Regions from separate parts of the Homo sapiens genome. Here region 1 is linked to region 2. Evidence: fine-mapped expression QTL. A gene starts in region 2. The other region holds a variant in brackets. All regions are shown on one strand. Distances are from middle to middle.

Region 1 (8,337 bases), 320 kb before region 2:
CAGGACAGGCACTGGCCAGTCCCCTCTCCGCCCTCCTGCCTCCACCCTTGAGATATGCAGGTTTCCCTGGGCAACCAGGAGGGGCAAAGGGGCCCCCTGAACGAAGGAGAAAGAGTCCTCACAGAGAGTTGAGACATTGAGGTAGCTCCGTATTTACCTCAAAGAGAGCATGTAAGGTCAGAAGAAATAGAAGTACCTTAATTTGGCAAGATCACATGTTTTTTGACATGAATGAGGCTTAGGGTTCTGGAGAAAGATGCCAACATTTATAGAAAATAGTTACATGCAAAATAGCACATGTACATGTTTAAGAGTTACAGTCTTTCTTGCCAGAACACAGTGTTTACAGGTCTGGGGTTGACACAGGACAGGTTCTTAATAAACACCAGTTATCTTGAGTCAGGGGCCACCCAGGAATTTCCTGCCTGCAACTATAGGCAAAACTAGGAGGTATGGCTGGCGCCCTTCTCTCTACTCTCCTACTGATGCTTTCATTGTCACCAAGTGATCCATTCCCCGTGTACTGAGAAAATAATGACCTGATTTGCATAACTACTGCCAGGTTACAAAGAGTTATAGAATGTTCCCAAGGTGTCTCTGATTTCAGAACTAGTGGTTAACCTAATTAACCCTTATTGGAATGGGTTTGTGAGAGACTTTTGAATTTGAGGGTGTCCAGGGTGTTGTTCCCAGCACCCTGTTGTACCCGAGCTTTCATTCATTCATTCGTTTGTGGAGCATATTCTTTTGAGCACCTGCTAAGTTTCAAGTGCTGTTCTAGGTGCTGGGGATCCAACAGTGAACAAGACTTGCAAGATTCCCTGCCCACATGGAGCTTACCTTCTAGTGAGGGAACAGACAGACAAAGGCTATTGTGTGTAAGCGGGGAATAAATTCTATGGAGAACATAAGGCTGAGAAGGGGGGGAGGAATATTTGGAGTGGCAGAGGTGGGTGGGAAGTGTGTCATTTTAAACAGGGTGGTAGGAGAAGGGCTCACTCAGCAGGTCACGTCTGAGCCAAGACCAGAAGGAAGTAAAGAAGCAATCTGTGCAGATTTCTAGGGAAAGAGCACCGCAGGCAGAGAGAATGGCAACTGCAAAGACCCTGTGGTGGGAGCGTGGCTGGTGTGATTGAGGAACGGTTGCTCTTGTAAATGGAGCAGAACAAGTAGGGAAGGGTAGGCGGGAGGAACCAGGACAGGGCTTTGTAGTTCCATGGATGAATTTGGGATTTATTCTGAGAAAATTGAGAAGCACTGGAGAATTTTGAGAAGGCTTCTCTCCCCTCCGTCTTGACTAGAAATTTTGAATTTACCAAATTATCATCATATTGCCTCTGCAGTAATGAGTTAGTGTCTCTTGAGCATTCACTATGTGCCGTACACCTCGTACACCTCAGTAAGGGCTTTATCTACAAACTGGACACTCGCCTAGAGTTATCCCCTCACTGCGAGTGTGTGGCAAAGCTAGAATTCAAATCTGGGCGGCAGGCAACCTGTTGCATAGCTCCTTGCATAATGACTGTGACAAAGCCTCATGCAGAGGGTGCCACACCTCACAAAGCTTTGTAAGACAGGGACATCTAGGAATGAACTTGAATTGTCACAGCAGAACTCAGTATTAGAACCTGCGGCCAGGCATGGTGGCTCACGCCTGTAATCCCAGCATTTTGGGAGACCGAGGCAGGAGGATCACCTGAGGTCAGGAGTTTGAGACCAGCCTGGCCAACATGGTGAAACCCCGTCTCTACTAAAAATACAAAAATTAGCCGGGTGTGCTGGCACATGCCTGTAGTCCCAGCTACTCAGGAAGCTGAGGCAGGAGAATCACTTGAACCCGGGAGGCAGAGGTTGCAATGAGAAGAAACTAAGAATTACAAAGCTTGCAGAGAGCCTGACATCTTATATAGAATCGTTACCCTGTTGCATTTTCAGAATGTATTGGTTCCTCTTGGTCTGTTTGCTACAGGTATGCAGTTGGTACTTTTTGTATACATTGAATACAATATTTTTTGCAGGCTCAGAATAAAAATTACCTCAAAAGTCATCCCATTGATAACTACCTTGTTTTTCACTTTTGACAGAAATATGAAGCAGCTGGAAAATTTAAGTTGAATATGAGATGAGTAATATTCTTACATTCCCAATAAACTCTCATCTTGGTGGGTGGGACCATGCCTTCCGCTTTGTTTATGTGCCTCCCGATATTGTATGTTTAGCAGGGACTTGGTAAATGGTGAAGTGTGATTGTGTTTTATCTCCTGGGTTCTTTGATAATTTCCCTTCCAATTCTAGAATCACGTAATTCTGTGTGACTAAGTATTGCCTAGTTTTTAAATTACCTTTCCTTTGGGAATAAGTAGCAGCCGATGTCTCTGAAACTCATAAGAAAAACAGAAAGTTATGTTAATAGCTTTTAAAAATAGATGAATCCGACTCCCTGCCTACTCTCTGCCTGTGCAGAATCATCTGAACTTTGCTGGAGAAAAACACTCACTTTTGAGTCATACCATGAATCTAAAATGCACTCTCAATGCTATTGGGAAAACTTACTTTATTTCCACAGAAAATTCTTCTTCAAATCCTCTGCAAAAAAGCTATTTCACTCCTCCTGTTCTCAAATCTTGAACACGTTTCTCCCTGGCCGCTCCACTCATAACATGGTCCCACTCTATATGAAAAAAGTAGAAGCACTCAGACCCAAACTCCTTCATTCTCACCCTTCACATTTGTGAAACCCATATTCTAGGTCTTCTCCCATTTCAACGGAAGAATTGTCCTTGATCAATCAAAAGTGATTTCCTCTGGATCTCATCTCTTGTGGAATTCTCAAGTCCCAGCTTCTGCAATTAGCCTCCCTCATTGTCCGGAATTATTGCTTTTCTCCCTTTCTACTATGTGATTCCAGCAGCAAACAAGCATGTTAGAATGTCCTGTGGTTTAAAAAAAAAAAAATTCCTTCTCTTAGCCAGATGTGGTGGCACACACCTGTGGTCCCAGCTACTCCGGAGGCTGACATGGGAGGATCGCTTGAGCCTTGGAGGTGGAGGCTGCAGTGAGCCAAGATCATGCCACTGCACTCCAGCCTGGGCAACAGAGTGAGACTCCATCTCAAAAAAAGAAAAAAAATCCCTCTTGACTTTCACATCTCTTCCAGGATGCACTGTCTTCCCTTCCACAGTGAAACTAGAAACAGTGACCTATCCTCCATGCCCACCAATCTCCACATTCCATTCTCTCCTCAAGCACTTCGTTCGGGCTTCTATGCATGTCCTTCTGCATGGCCAGCAGTGACATCTATGTTTGTTTGTTTATTTATTTATTTTAGATGGAGTTTCGCTCTTGTCTCCCAGGCTGGAGTGCAGTGGCACAATCTCGGCTCACTGCAACCTCCACCTCCCACGTTCAAACGATTCTCCTGCCTCAGCCTCCCGAGTAGCTGGGATTACAGGCACATGCCACCACACCCAGCAAATTTTTTGTATTTTTAGTAGAGACAGGGTTTCACCATGTTAGCCAGGATGGTCTCGATCTCCTGACCTCGTGATCTGCCCGCCTAGGCCTCCCAAAGTGCTGGGATTACAGGTGCGAGCCACTGCACCCGGCCCATCCATGTTGAATGATGTGTTCATTGCTGCTCCCATGAATCATACACTGGTAGACCCACCTGACTATTGGATATCTCTTCTTTGATGTTTAACAGACAACCTAGCCTTAACATATCTAAAAATGTTTTTCTCCTAAAGTATGTTCCTACTCTACTGTTTTCCCCCAGTAAATGACATCATCCCTCATCCATCTGCTCTCACCAAAAAACAAGGAGCCATCATTCATTCATCTCTCCTGGCCCCAACGAATCCTCCAGCAATGCTGCTGGCTTCATCTCCAAAGTATATTCTGAATCTACCTGCTTTCCCCACCTCCCCCACCACCATTCTAGTCCAAGATATCTTCATCTCCACTTAGATTATTGCGGTAGCCCTGCAATTGCCTTCTCACCCCACCCCATACTCTATTATCATGTAGCAGAGTGACCTGTAAACTTTTCAGTCAGATCAAATCATTCTCATGATGGAAACCTTCCAAAGTTCCCCGTTTCACTTGAAGGAAAAGCCAACCCGCTCAGCTTGGCCTGGAGGCTCTGCATAACCTAGCCCCTGTCTCCTGCTCCGACGTGTCCTCATCTTGTGCTCCCATGGGTCCACTAAGCTGCTTAGTAACAGTGCAATCACGGTGAGGCCAAAAAAGGAAGAAGAGATGGAAGATGGAAAATATATGTAGACAACATGTATAAATCCCATTGCTTTCTTTGAAATCTTTGATTTACTGTATCCCTTTATTAAGTCTGTACATTTCTTTTGGTCTCATATTTCTTATTTGGTTTTAGCTAAAGGAATCTTATATTTAGCTTTGAACTTGCAAATCCTCCTAATGAAAGGAAATCTGTACAGAAAAAGGAAGCTATTCCTGTAGGTATGGGAAGGAGATAGAATTTTGAACAGTTACATCACTCAGAATAGAGTTGAAGGCTGAATACATTTATGAGAATGATATCCTATCTTCGTGTTTAAATAAAGAGCTGTGTGGAAATTACAGTTACAGAACAGAATGTAAACATAAACCTTCACAGTGTATAAATCACATAACTAGCAAATACCATGAAAAGAGGGAAGTAG[G/A]CATGGAAGGAAATAGAATGCTAATTTTCTCATCTCTCTTGGCAGGGAGTAAGTCAACAATGAATACAATAGAACTGTATGTTATTGAAACAATAAAGGTTTCAATCTTTAATTCTTTTCATGTTAATTTTCATTAGTTTACAGGGATCTCTTAGGAAATAATATCTCTCATGTAGTAAAAAAAAATCCAAATACTAGAAATAATTTCCACTACTTGCAGTTTTAAAAATTCTCTTAAATTCAAGTAAATATAGGCAATATTTATGTAAAATACCATTTATGTATAAAATGATTCCACTTCATCCACTTATGTGCATAGAGAGCTGACCGAAAGATGGCACCTAAAATTAACAACAGTTCGTTGTGGGTGGCAGGATTCTAGGTGGTATATTCTTCCCGATTTGCACTTTGGTCTAGTTAAGTTCATTAGAAGAGGTTACTTTAGAGTCTGAAAAACGTTGTGTTTCCTTCCTATGCTGGTCTGGGCCTTCCTTCAGTTCCTTATTTTTTAGATGAACAGTTCAGGATACCAGGAGTTTAGCTGCCATTTTATTCCCAAGAAGAGGCAAAGCTAAGCAAGATCCAGACAGCAAGATCCGCCCTCTGACTGAAGGTGGAGGCAAAGCTAAGCAAGATCCAGACAGACTCGCTCTCCCTCCCCACCCTCTGACTGAAGGTGGGATTCTTCAATAGCCAGGCAGCTCCAGGCTCCAAACCAGCGTTGCCCCTTTGGTGGTGAGGGTCAGAGAGCAGAAGGGGTGCCTGTACTTTGCAAGCGGCTTCTCTAACATCTGACAGCCTGCCAATCCAAAGGAGATTCGCTGACCTCTTTTAAAACTTAGGGCAGAAATTATCAGCCTAGGGGAACGTTCCATCATAGCTCTCATTTTACTTAGGACACTGAAAGCTTTTATGAATACACTCTTTAATAAAAAGTTTACAAAGCAAGCAGCCTAACATGCAGACAAAGAGGGATATAAGGGCATTTGCAAACATGATAGAGTCTCCCCCTGTTGCAGATCTATAATCTATCCAGGACGGTATCAAGCAAGTGACATTCTGCCTATTATCAAAAGAAGCTGGAGTACTTCTGTCTACTGTATCTTAGTATCGGAGTCGCCAAGCAAAACACAACAGTCAAGCACCGGATGCAACAACCCTTTACTCACAGAATGAAGAGACGGAGCAAGATCAGCCTCAGTAGTGGGTGTTGGTTCCCCATGGCCAGAGGGCCCCTTCTGGCCCATCTATAATCTAGCAGGGGACAGAGTAGCAGGGTTGGCCAGGTATCATATGACACACACACTTAAGCAGAACAAAGGAGTACACACTGAGTCTGAAGCGGGGAGTGCTATCCCCACACATGGTAGCAAGTCCAGCACAGGCTGTGAACGAGGACTTTAAAAAGAGTCCCCTTGGTAAAGAAGTGTTCCAGGCCCAGGCCCATTCATACATGGCCAAGAGGGGATCTAAAGACTGTGAATGTGAAACTGCCCTTCCCAAGGGAAGCCACAAGTGCGTACTGTGCTTAAGCCAGGACAAAAATTATGCTGTTGATCCAACTTGGTTTCCATAAGGGGAAAAATGTCACATGGAAATTTCACAGAAATTGAGGCCTGTATACTACTTTGCCAAGGGTCTCCCATAATATGAGCATTATTAGGTTTTTTTTGAATGCAGTTTATATCCCAGAAACAAAGATATTTGATATTTGAGTTTTTGAGAGTTCTAAGTGTGGTGTTGCAAATTAACGGTGTACTCTAAAAGTGAAGACACTATTACAACCTCAAGTGGATATATTAAGTCAAGCGAGAATTATCACTTAAGCTTATGTGACTAGCATAGTGTGAATATCAGAAGTTCTCATTATCTCTGCCTCACTATCCAAGCAAGTTAGGAGACTGCTTTCTATTACAGGTTTTAAAAAATAAAATTTAAGAATTAAGTCACATGGTTTTTCAATTTTGCTTCTTAGAATATGGCTGCATAGCAGAATCAGAAAATCAAATCCAACCACAATCAGCATTGAAAGTGAGTCTATATTCCATTTTATCATCTCCAAAATTCTGGGTAAAGGCTGATCTTTTTCAGAATAAATACTCCCTAAATGCAAACGGGTTCTCTCACTTTATCCTCACAAGGATCTCCATGAAAGCACATTGGGGAGTTAGCAAAATGCCTAAGAATGTGAACCACCTGACCCTCACGGGATCTTTTCAAGTAATAGGCAACTTTGGGAGACATAAAATCATAACAATTCAAGAATACGTTTACCTACCTAAAAATACTCAATTTCATACTTTACTTTTGTCATAGGTCCTTCAGCAGCAGTTGGAATCATTTCAGGCTTTGCGAATGCAGACTTTGCAGAATGTCAGCATGGTATGTTTCTTTTGATCTATATATGAAATATCTCACCTTGAAGTATCATCCCATCTTCTAAGCTGATGGTCACTAGCCAATGGATTAGCTGACACAGAATTTAATATAATAGAGGCCACAGCATATTCTAGGCTCAAAATTTATTTTAAAGAAACTACATTCTTCTCTCTGTTATACTTGTATTTGGAAACAAGCCCAAAGAGATAGCACTCGCTGATTTTTTCAATACACGTTTAAAGTCTATATATAGACTACAAATAGGGACCCTCATTATAGGTGACATGAAGTCTAATTCAAACTGGCTTAGGGAAAAAATACACTTTAATAGCTCAAGTAAATGAAAGTCCTGGAGAGAGCTCACTTCAGGATGGCTGAGTCCACATGATCAGGTCTTGTGTCGTCAAAATAGGTCTCACTCTGTATCCTGATTCTGCTTTCCACAGTAGGGGATTCTCAGACTCCCTGTGGTGGCAGAAGATCTGCTAGAAGGTCCAGTTCTTTCTCCTTCCAAATTCAAGTCAGAGAAGAGAGTACACTTTGCTTTGAGAAGGAGTTTCATTTTTGTCACCCAGGCTGGAGTGTGGTGGCATGATCTTGGCTCCCTGCGACTTCTGCCTCCTGGGTTCAAGCAATTCTCCTGCCTCAGCCTCCTGAGTAGCTGGGATTACAGGTGCCCACCACCATGCCTGGTTAATTTTTGTATTTTTAGTAGAGACCAGGTTTCGCCACATTAGCCAGGCTGGTCTTAAACTCCCGACCTTAGGTGATCTGCCCACCTCAGTCTCCCAAAATGCTGGGATTACAGGCGTGAGCCACCGCACCCGGCTACACTTTGCTCACAATAGTTTAGACTGAGGCTCTTGGCCTGATTCAGATGGATCCCGACTGGGTCACATGCAATGCTTGAACCAATCACTGTCAGGTGGCCGCTGTTCCCTGACTAGTTAGCACTCAGTCAGGTGCCCCTGGGAGTTAGAGGCAGAATCAATACTACCATAACCACGCTTCATCCAGAAGAAATAAGGAGAAGTATAAACAGAAGTCTAGAGTATAGATATTGGGGGTATGTAACACACACATATTCACTAAAGACCCAGTGTAAACTTCATCCCAATATTCTTATACTAAAAGCACCTGCAGGGAAATAGGAAGGGAAGATAACTCCTCCTAAGGGGGACAGAATAGATTCCAAAGGTCTCTTATTCAACAATGTAAAAATCAGACACCTAAAATCATTTGAATATAGTTCATAAAACTTTGTTTTACTAAATTGCTTCTG
Region 2 (8,337 bases):
GTCTTTATTGATGTTTCACATTCAGTTATTATCAATTCTTCAGTTAATTGTACAAGTATGATAAATTATTTTCTATTTGCTGTGGGAATTTAAATGTAAAATAAATACAAAATACATGTGTGGTTTAATGAACACTCAATGAAGCATCTCTTCTGAGGTATTCCTTTCAGTCTGGTTTTATCCCAGATCTTTTTACTTCCCCTAGGAATAGTCTATTAAACCACACAATGGATCTGTGAACTTGTAGATCAAGTTCACTGTAAATCTGTGAACTTGTGTTTTAATTACATTAGACATATTTTTTGATCTCATCATACAACACCAATACAAAAGCACCGCCCATGCCTCTCAGCACATTGGACCAGGCACCTTTGAAGAAGGCCTTGGCTCCTTCGTCTTTTGCAATCTTCCTCCAGCAGTCAACTGTCCCCGTGTACATAATATCGGCTGTGGAAACAAATGCTGGTGAGGGCTCCGTAACGCTGGAGGAAAGAGACTTTTCCCCTGAAACATATCTGTACACACTGTTACCAGTTTTATAAAATCAGGGTCATCTGGGCATGGAGTCCCAGCTCCATGCAACATCCCACTGGACATCTCCTTCCTTGCTTCACTGGCAGGCTGGGTCTCCTGTCATTCCTACTCCATTAGTTCAAGGTCAGTGAAGAACTGGGGCAATTAACCAAGTAATTCATGGACTGCCCAACTGCGAAACAAGAAGGGCGCAGTGGAGCAGGAGTATTATGCTACGCGGTTACCTTTTTTTATGGAGGACCGAACTGAGGCCGAGCCTCAGATGATCCTGCACGAGGTTATGCAGTCTAAATAAAAGGCTGTAACTATTCGTTGAAACATACGAAACTGCTAACATTGGACTGTTTTTGACTTTTAAAGTGGCAATTTCGTATGGTTCAACCTATAGAAGCCAAAACTTTCTCTGGCACAACAGATTGCTTCAGGCCATCTCTACCCAGCTAAACACCCCATCCCACTAACACCTGTAACTAGGAGGGAAGCAAGAGTTCTTTGTAAGAAGTAGCTAACTACTTCTTTTCCCTAGCTTTTGCACCCAGGCTCTAAGGGAAGAGGGCCTAGGGTCTCTATAATGCTGGATACCTAGTTAAATTCACATCTAAATGTCTTACTATTCATGTTCTTATCATCTCTAATAAAATGGAAAATACTTTTCCCTAATAGGATAGTTGAGAACGTTAGGGGGAATTAATACCATCTTTCTTCCCTAAGTCCTTATCAAATAATTTTGAAAATTAATTTCCAGTAAGGAAGACTGAAAGGAGCCCTGTAAAATGTTCTCCTCGGGCAAAACCAAACAAGTTTAGATGAGTAGAGCACAAGCTTACCCCCTTTCCGGCCGGACTGCATCATCATTCTACGACGAACAGTGTCAAAGGGGTAGGACACCAGCCCTGCGACTGCCGTCACACTCTGGGCAATCATCCAGCTCACAAAAATGTGCACGTTCTTGGGGTCAGGCAGCATCCCTGTGGACAGAGCCCAGAAGCCGAACGGCTATGAAGTGCCTGTTCTCAGCAGAAAGCAGGTGGAGGGAGAGAGGCCACTGCACCTCCAGCTCCATGCTCTGACCTTGCGGGGAACCTGCCCCTGTGCAGGTGCTTCACATATGACCAGGCAGACAGCAAAGGTGGCTGCTGCCCTCTCCGGACCCCGGAGGGGCAGTGCTCAGCTTGTATACAGGGCATTGGAAGTGGCTTCAAGTTAAACTCAGTAACTGCTATGGCTGTGTCTAGAGGGAGACAGGCTCCCCCCTCCTCCTCTCTGAATAACTAAAGGCCAGAGTTTATTTCAGTAGAGGACACAAGGAACGCTTCAGCTATTAACTTATGCACATCACCTCCTCATTCAGAAGCCTCAATTATCCCAGAGACTAGAAAAAACAAGATCAATATATATCAGGTCCTTTGTGAGTTATAGATCCCATAGGATCCTCTTTCCACACCACCCTCCTTCTCCCCGATGCCCCTCTCTCACCCTTGGCAGTATCATAGACTCCGAAGTAGGCAGCTCTATAGATAATGATGCCTTGGACAGAGACGTTGAAACCCTGGTAGAGCCCCCTCAGGCCATCAGACTTGAAGATCTTGATGATACAGTCGCCCAGACCATGGAACTCACGCTGGGCGGCGCCCTTGCCCACATCAGCAGCCAACCTGGTCCTAGCAAAGTCCAGCGGGTAGACAAAGCAAAGGGAGGTGGCCCCAGCGGCCCCACCGGACGCCAGGTTACCAGCAAAGTAGCGCCAGAACTGCTTATGCCGATCCACACCCCCTAAGAAGAGCTGCTTGTACTTGTCCTTGAAGGCGAAGTTGAGAGCTTGGGTGGGGAAGTAACGGATCACGTTGGCCAGGTTACCCCTCCAGAAGGAGAGGAAGCCCTGCTCCTTAGGGATTCTCACCACACAATCAATGATCCCTTTGTACTGCTTCTCAGCACTGATCTGTTTGCTGGCATGCTGGACCTGGTGGAGGGGAGGGTGGGTGACAGAGGACAGGCAGGGTAGAGAGAAGGGAAGAGGACAGGAGAAAAAAAAAGGTTTGCACTTCCTAGATTTTTTTTTTGAAGAAAAAAAGGATGAGGAAATCAAATGGATACTGAGGACGTGTAAATGGATACTGTTATCCATGTTAGTTACTGGATAACAAGCCAAAATAATCCAATGTTGCTTCAATTATTAGGGTATTTGAGGGAAAAGGTATTGCCCCAAATAAACTGAAAAGGTGATTGAATTATATAAAGCTATAGCCATTTATTTATTTCACTTTCCCTAGGTTTGAGAACTGTATGAGGGGCTTACTGGGGGACAGAAATGAGTAACACTCCCTGCTTCAAAGGGCTTTGGATTTAATAGACATGATGGCCAAAAAATGACAATTTCTCAGTGTCACTCTGATCACCCTGGAGATGAGGATCTCTACTAGATGCTCTAATAGAGGAAGGAGAATAAATCCACTAAACATTAGGCCTCCAAAGTTTTCAAGCAGATAATCCAAGTAATCAATTATTAAGGGTTTGCTGCCGTTGTGAGCAATTTGTGGGGGTTTTGTTGTTAGTAATTCTGACTCCCAAATTGGGCTCTTCCTCATTGAGGGGCCCTGACCTTTTGGGCAGGTGGAGGAAAACACGAGAGGATGATAAACCATTCAGCGACCAGGTAGGGGAGGAAAAGATTTGGAGACAGGATGATCTGAGTTTATTCCGAAAATTGTTTCTTAATATTTCAAAACCTCAGCTTCATCTGTAAAATGGAGAAGAATAACTCTCTCACAGAGGTTACATAAAGATGAAGGCGTCAGCCTACATACAGCATTGTGCATGAGATACGATAAGGGAATTCTTGGGTGATGATTATTTTGATGTTTTTATTGTAAAGGTGCGTGCGCATAAGACGGTGCCAAAAATACTGGCAATCACTAGGTGCCTCCGGGCCTGAGTGCACGCCCGTGCTGTCACGGGCGCAGGATCTGGCACACGTAAACCGGCTCCGGGTGGGTTTCCATATATAGACACCCGAACGCCGGGCGCCACCCGACACCAGGAATCTGCGACTGACGCTGGACCTGTCTCTACGCAGAGGGCACCTTCTTCCCCCGCGGGCGGGCGGGCGGGCGGGCGGGCGCCCGGGCCTGTGGCCTGGCGCAGATTTTCCGCGGCGCCCCGCGCCCTGCAGCTCGCGCCGCATCGCGCGCCCCGCCCGGCCCGCCGCGCCCGCGCCCGCCTCTTGCACCGCGCGGTCCTCACCTGCAGCAGCAGTTTGACCCTCTCGATGGGGGCGACCGCGGTCTTGGAGACGGCAGCGGCGACGCCCCCGGCCAGGAAGTCCTTTAGGAAGCTCCAAGCGTGATCACCCATGGTGACAGCTCGACGCTCTCAGCCCGCAGGCAGCCCGTTCGTGCTCTCGCCCACGCCCGGCCTGGCACCGCCGCGCAGTCCCCGACCCTGCGCGACGCTAGGGGGCCGCCGCCTGGCCCGCAGCTCCCCCTTATATCCCCGCCGGGCTCTCGCGAGAGGAGGCGGGTCGCGGCCGGCGCTCGCGCCGCGCATTGGCTGGGCAGGTGCGGGGCGCCCCCTCCTCCCAGCTGCAGAGGGCATCGGGGGCGAAGGCGCTTCCGGGAGCGAGGCTGGGCCGGGGGCTGTCCCTGCAACTTGGGACGTTTAAAGGGCACATTCATGTTATCTGTCCCGCCGAGCCCAGGGAACACCGTGTCACCGCGGCATGTGGGCCGCGTATTTATAGCACAGGCAGCCTTAGGCCGGGGCGAAGCCGGGGCAGACACCGGGCCGCTGCCGCCGGTGGAGAGTTCTTGACCCTCCGGCCTGCACGGGCCGCGCTCAGGCCCAGGGATTTCGAGCTGTTTCCTCCTTCTTGCATCTAAAGGCGCCCCCCACCAGAGCTCACTGCCTGGATATGGGCCTCTTTAGAGCCGTGCGCTCCCGAGAATAAATGGCAGTCCTCTCAAATAGATACTAAGGTCACCTGATGCTGTGATTGCCTCATAGAATCTGACAACCTGCTGCCTCTCATTTCTTTTCATTCAATCGTTCGTTCAGTCATTCATTCTGCTATTACATATTGATGTGTCTGGCACTCAGTGCCCACAGGAAAGACCTGGTGCAGGGGGCCACTAGGTGAATTCATACTTGTTTCTGCAAAACTCTGTGACTCTAAAACACAGGACACTTCTTTTGTAAGCCCCTAAAGGGTTCAATGTACCACTCTGCTCTCAGCGGAATTTCAGCACATATTAGGGCAGAATGTTCTGTCTGTCAGCCGGTGCCTTCTTGAGGGTCAGTGCTGTCAGCCTTCCGGAGATCCAGTCCTTGGCTGTATTTGCCTCTTTTTAATGACAGCTGGGGTTGAGGAAATGCTATTTAATCCCAGGAAATTAATTGCAATTAATTTCTTAAAATATATAAATCTGAGCTTTAATTTTCCTTAGCTTGTTTTTTAGGCAGTTCATGTAACCATACAGGTTTTCAAATACAACTGTTCCTTCCCCTAGAATGACTGCAATTCGTTTTTAACTTTAAACTCTTCACTCAATTATCTTCCCATGTTTGCTAATTTTCATTTGTACCTTTAACAAAGTTTATTCATTGTTTTATAAACTTTTTTTTTTTAATATTTGCTGACATCATGTTAGAGGTTTACGGAGCTGCAGCTGCGTGTCACCCTGGGCGTGGAGACTTTGGTATAGCAGAAGTCACTAAGGTTCCAGGGCCACAGAGGGCATGCGTTTATCTAAGAGTGGGGCAGGCTAGAGTTCCGAAATCCAGGTAAGCAGAATGAAAGCTAGAAACTAGTGGAAAGCTGCCAGAGGTCAGAGCAGACAGAAGTCAAGAACTCGGAAGAGACAAACAGATAAACCATGTATGTGTTCATTCAACAGACTCTTGCTGAGCATGTACTGTGTACCAAGAACTAGGTGTAGCCCTGTGGATTGAATATAAGTAGACGTGGCCCATCTCCAAAGACCTTACAGTTCAGTGTATTCGTCACTTGCTCCACTTTATCAAAACTTCACTTACTGATTTCCATGGATCAGCATAATCCACACAGTAAACCTTTTTAATTATAATAGTGTACTGTATCCCATCCTGTAATATAGAGCACTTGCTTTTATACCTCCATTTTCCTTTTAATTGTGCATTAGAATTGTGTCTTATTTTTATGATGAAAAATAGGCCGGGTGTGGTGGCTCATACCTTTGGGAGGCTGAGGCTGGCAGATTACCTAGGTCAGGAGTTCGAGACCAGCCTGGCCAACATGGCAAAACCCCATCTCTACTAAAAATACAAAAATTAGCCTGGCGTGATGGCTCATGCCTGGAATCCCAGCAGCTCAGGAGGCTCAGGCACGAGACCCCCGAGAGGCAGAGGTCATGGTGATCTGAGATCACTCCACTGCACTTCAGCCTGGGCAACAGAGAAAGACTCTGACTCAAAAAAAAAAAAAGAAAGAAAGAAAGAAAGAAAGGAAGGAAGGAAGGAAGGAAGGAAGGAAGGAAGGAAAACTAATACTGCTACATTGAAACTTACACAAACTTCATTTTCTCCTCTAAGTTTTTTCTTCTCATATATTTCCCAAATGGAATGGATAGATTTAAGATTTTTAAAGTTTTGTAGCTTTTGCTACATATTGACAAATTGCTCTTCAGAAATACCAACCCACCAGTTATATAGATGGGCTTTCTCTCACACTCTTCTCCAACACTGGCTTTAAAAAAATAGAGAGTTGGTTATTTGTGAGTTATTTATGAGTTTTAGTTTGTATTTACTTAATTACTATGAAGCTGTATATATTCCATATGATTCAATTTAATTTGACAGTTTGACAAGGTTTCCCTTTTGTATAAACTTTTAATCTTCCTTGACTACTGCTGGAGTGAAAGCAGAGTATTTATATTAACAACAATTCTTTATATATTTGGGACAATAAATATGTGTTGAATGTTTTTCATTTTGTTGTTTTCCTTTTGATATTTATTATATCATTCTATTAGTGTTATGAACAGATCTATGGTATGATGATGATCTATTTCATGTTCTGATGTAAATGTATCTCTTTTATAGATATAGCAGTCTATTTACTCTAGTACATATATCAGTTTTTTTCTTCTACTTTGAGTAGCTATTTTTAAAATGTCTAACACTACGTTTTATATTGTATGGAGGTATGGGTCTAATTTCACTTTTCTCCATATCATGCTTGGGTATCCCAATACTAATTCTTAAGTAGATATTTTCTTCTCTCCATTATTTGTCTTATATTACTAAGTCTAGTTTGTCATATATTAAGTTCTCATAATAGCTTTAATTTATGAAATATCCACACTATGACATATTTATTTGATCTTCATTTTTTAAAAATAGGCTGATATATGATTCTACAATCACTTAAAAAATAAAGTTTTATCTGCTTATGTGTCTGGATTTATTTTTACTATCAAGTTGTTCAATTGTTTAAACATCACCAGAAGATTTTAAATAGACATTTAAACTAAATTAAATATTAATTAATATATGAATTCAGGAAGTAGTATCATCTTTGTTACACTTAATTTTACCAATCAGAGTTTTGGATATTTTCTAAATGGGAGATATATTTCTCCTTGGCTACTCTCCAGTTATCCTGTTCTATAGAAGGAGTCATAGCTGGAATCCTTGACAAGAGGTTTTCCATGGAAACTCATACACTGTCCTCTGCTTCCACGGACTTTCTCAGAAAAGAGAGGCCTTACATGCCCTCGGGAGCATGAGCTGCCTGTGGTCACAAGATCCTGGTATCACTTACACAGGCAGGGGAGAGAATGGCGCTCGGCAGAACATGTGTCCACCCGCCCAACCCAGTACTTAGTGGCTTTCTTCCAGCAGGAGAATGGACAAGGCATCTAGGAGATGAGAAGAAACTCTACTTTCAATCGTGGATGGGATCTTAGATGCTGGTGGGAACAGGGCCATGTAGAAATGAGAGCAGGGTGGAAAGTTAGCCTTTTGGAATTTTAGTGGAAGCTCTTATAGACTTAGTCTCTTACCAAACTGGGAATAGAGAATGGAAGTTGCTAAAGAGTAAGAGTGACAAGGAATAAAGAAAAACAATAAAGGATGTGCTAATGGTGGTGATAACATAATGCCTGTGTGCAAGTGTACATTTAAAGTATTAGGAATTAGAACACACTACTAGTGTTTGTTCACATGGTAAGTTTCAGCATTAAGCGAAGAGGATCAAGATATTTATATGTGCATTTATTTATTTATTTATTTTAGAGACAGCATCTTGCTTTGTCACCCTGGCTGGAGCACGGTGGCACAATCACAGATCACTGAAACCATGCACTCCTAGGCACAAGGGATCCTCCTGCTTCAGCCTCCTGAGTAGCTGAGGCTACAGGCACATACCATCATGCCCGGATATATATATTTTTTAATTTGCAGGTTTTGCTGTGGTCTCCTGGTTTTGCTATGTTGCCCAGGCTATGTGGAGAAGCTTACATGCCAGGAACAGACATAGCTGTGGTGCCTACAGGCAATTCCAACGCAGCCTGGCAAGGACAAGGACCCAAGAGGGGGTTCTGGTTGTACTTCCAGCAGAGTGACTTTCAGTGTGTTGCCTCCACCGGAACTTGTACTTTTTACGTTTTATGAATGTTCGTGAAACAAAAAGTTTTGTTAGAAGGATTTGGCGCCTTATTATTTAAAGGAGGTGATTTGAGGGGGCAGAGGAGCCCTTGAATCATAGAAAAGACAGAGGGACTTCTCCTAGAAGGCACTCTGCTTCCGGGGGAAACTGATTCAGGTTGG

What was found. PIP is the estimated chance that this variant, and not a neighbour inherited with it, causes the effect.
Region 1: its variant is fine-mapped to the expression of SLC25A4 in whole blood (TOPMed, PIP 0.97).

Annotation. Positions count from the first base shown.
Region 1 is chr4:185,461,364-185,469,700 of GRCh38, reverse strand. CCDC110 (coiled-coil domain containing 110) reads left to right here. Exons shown (of 7, transcript NM_152775.4): 3 at 6,652-6,707; 4 at 6,993-7,058. Among named protein-coding and RNA genes, the nearest start is that of CCDC110, 6.2 kb to the left of the region's middle. The variant G/A (reference allele first, on the strand shown) is at 4,677.
Region 2 is chr4:185,138,924-185,147,260 of GRCh38, reverse strand. SLC25A4 (solute carrier family 25 member 4) reads right to left here and starts at 3,995. Exons shown (of 4, transcript NM_001151.4): 1 at 3,778-3,995; 2 at 2,011-2,497; 3 at 1,362-1,502; 4 at 1-447. The coding sequence starts at 3,888. The coding sequence ends at 290. RefSeq lists a silencer at 3,924-4,223.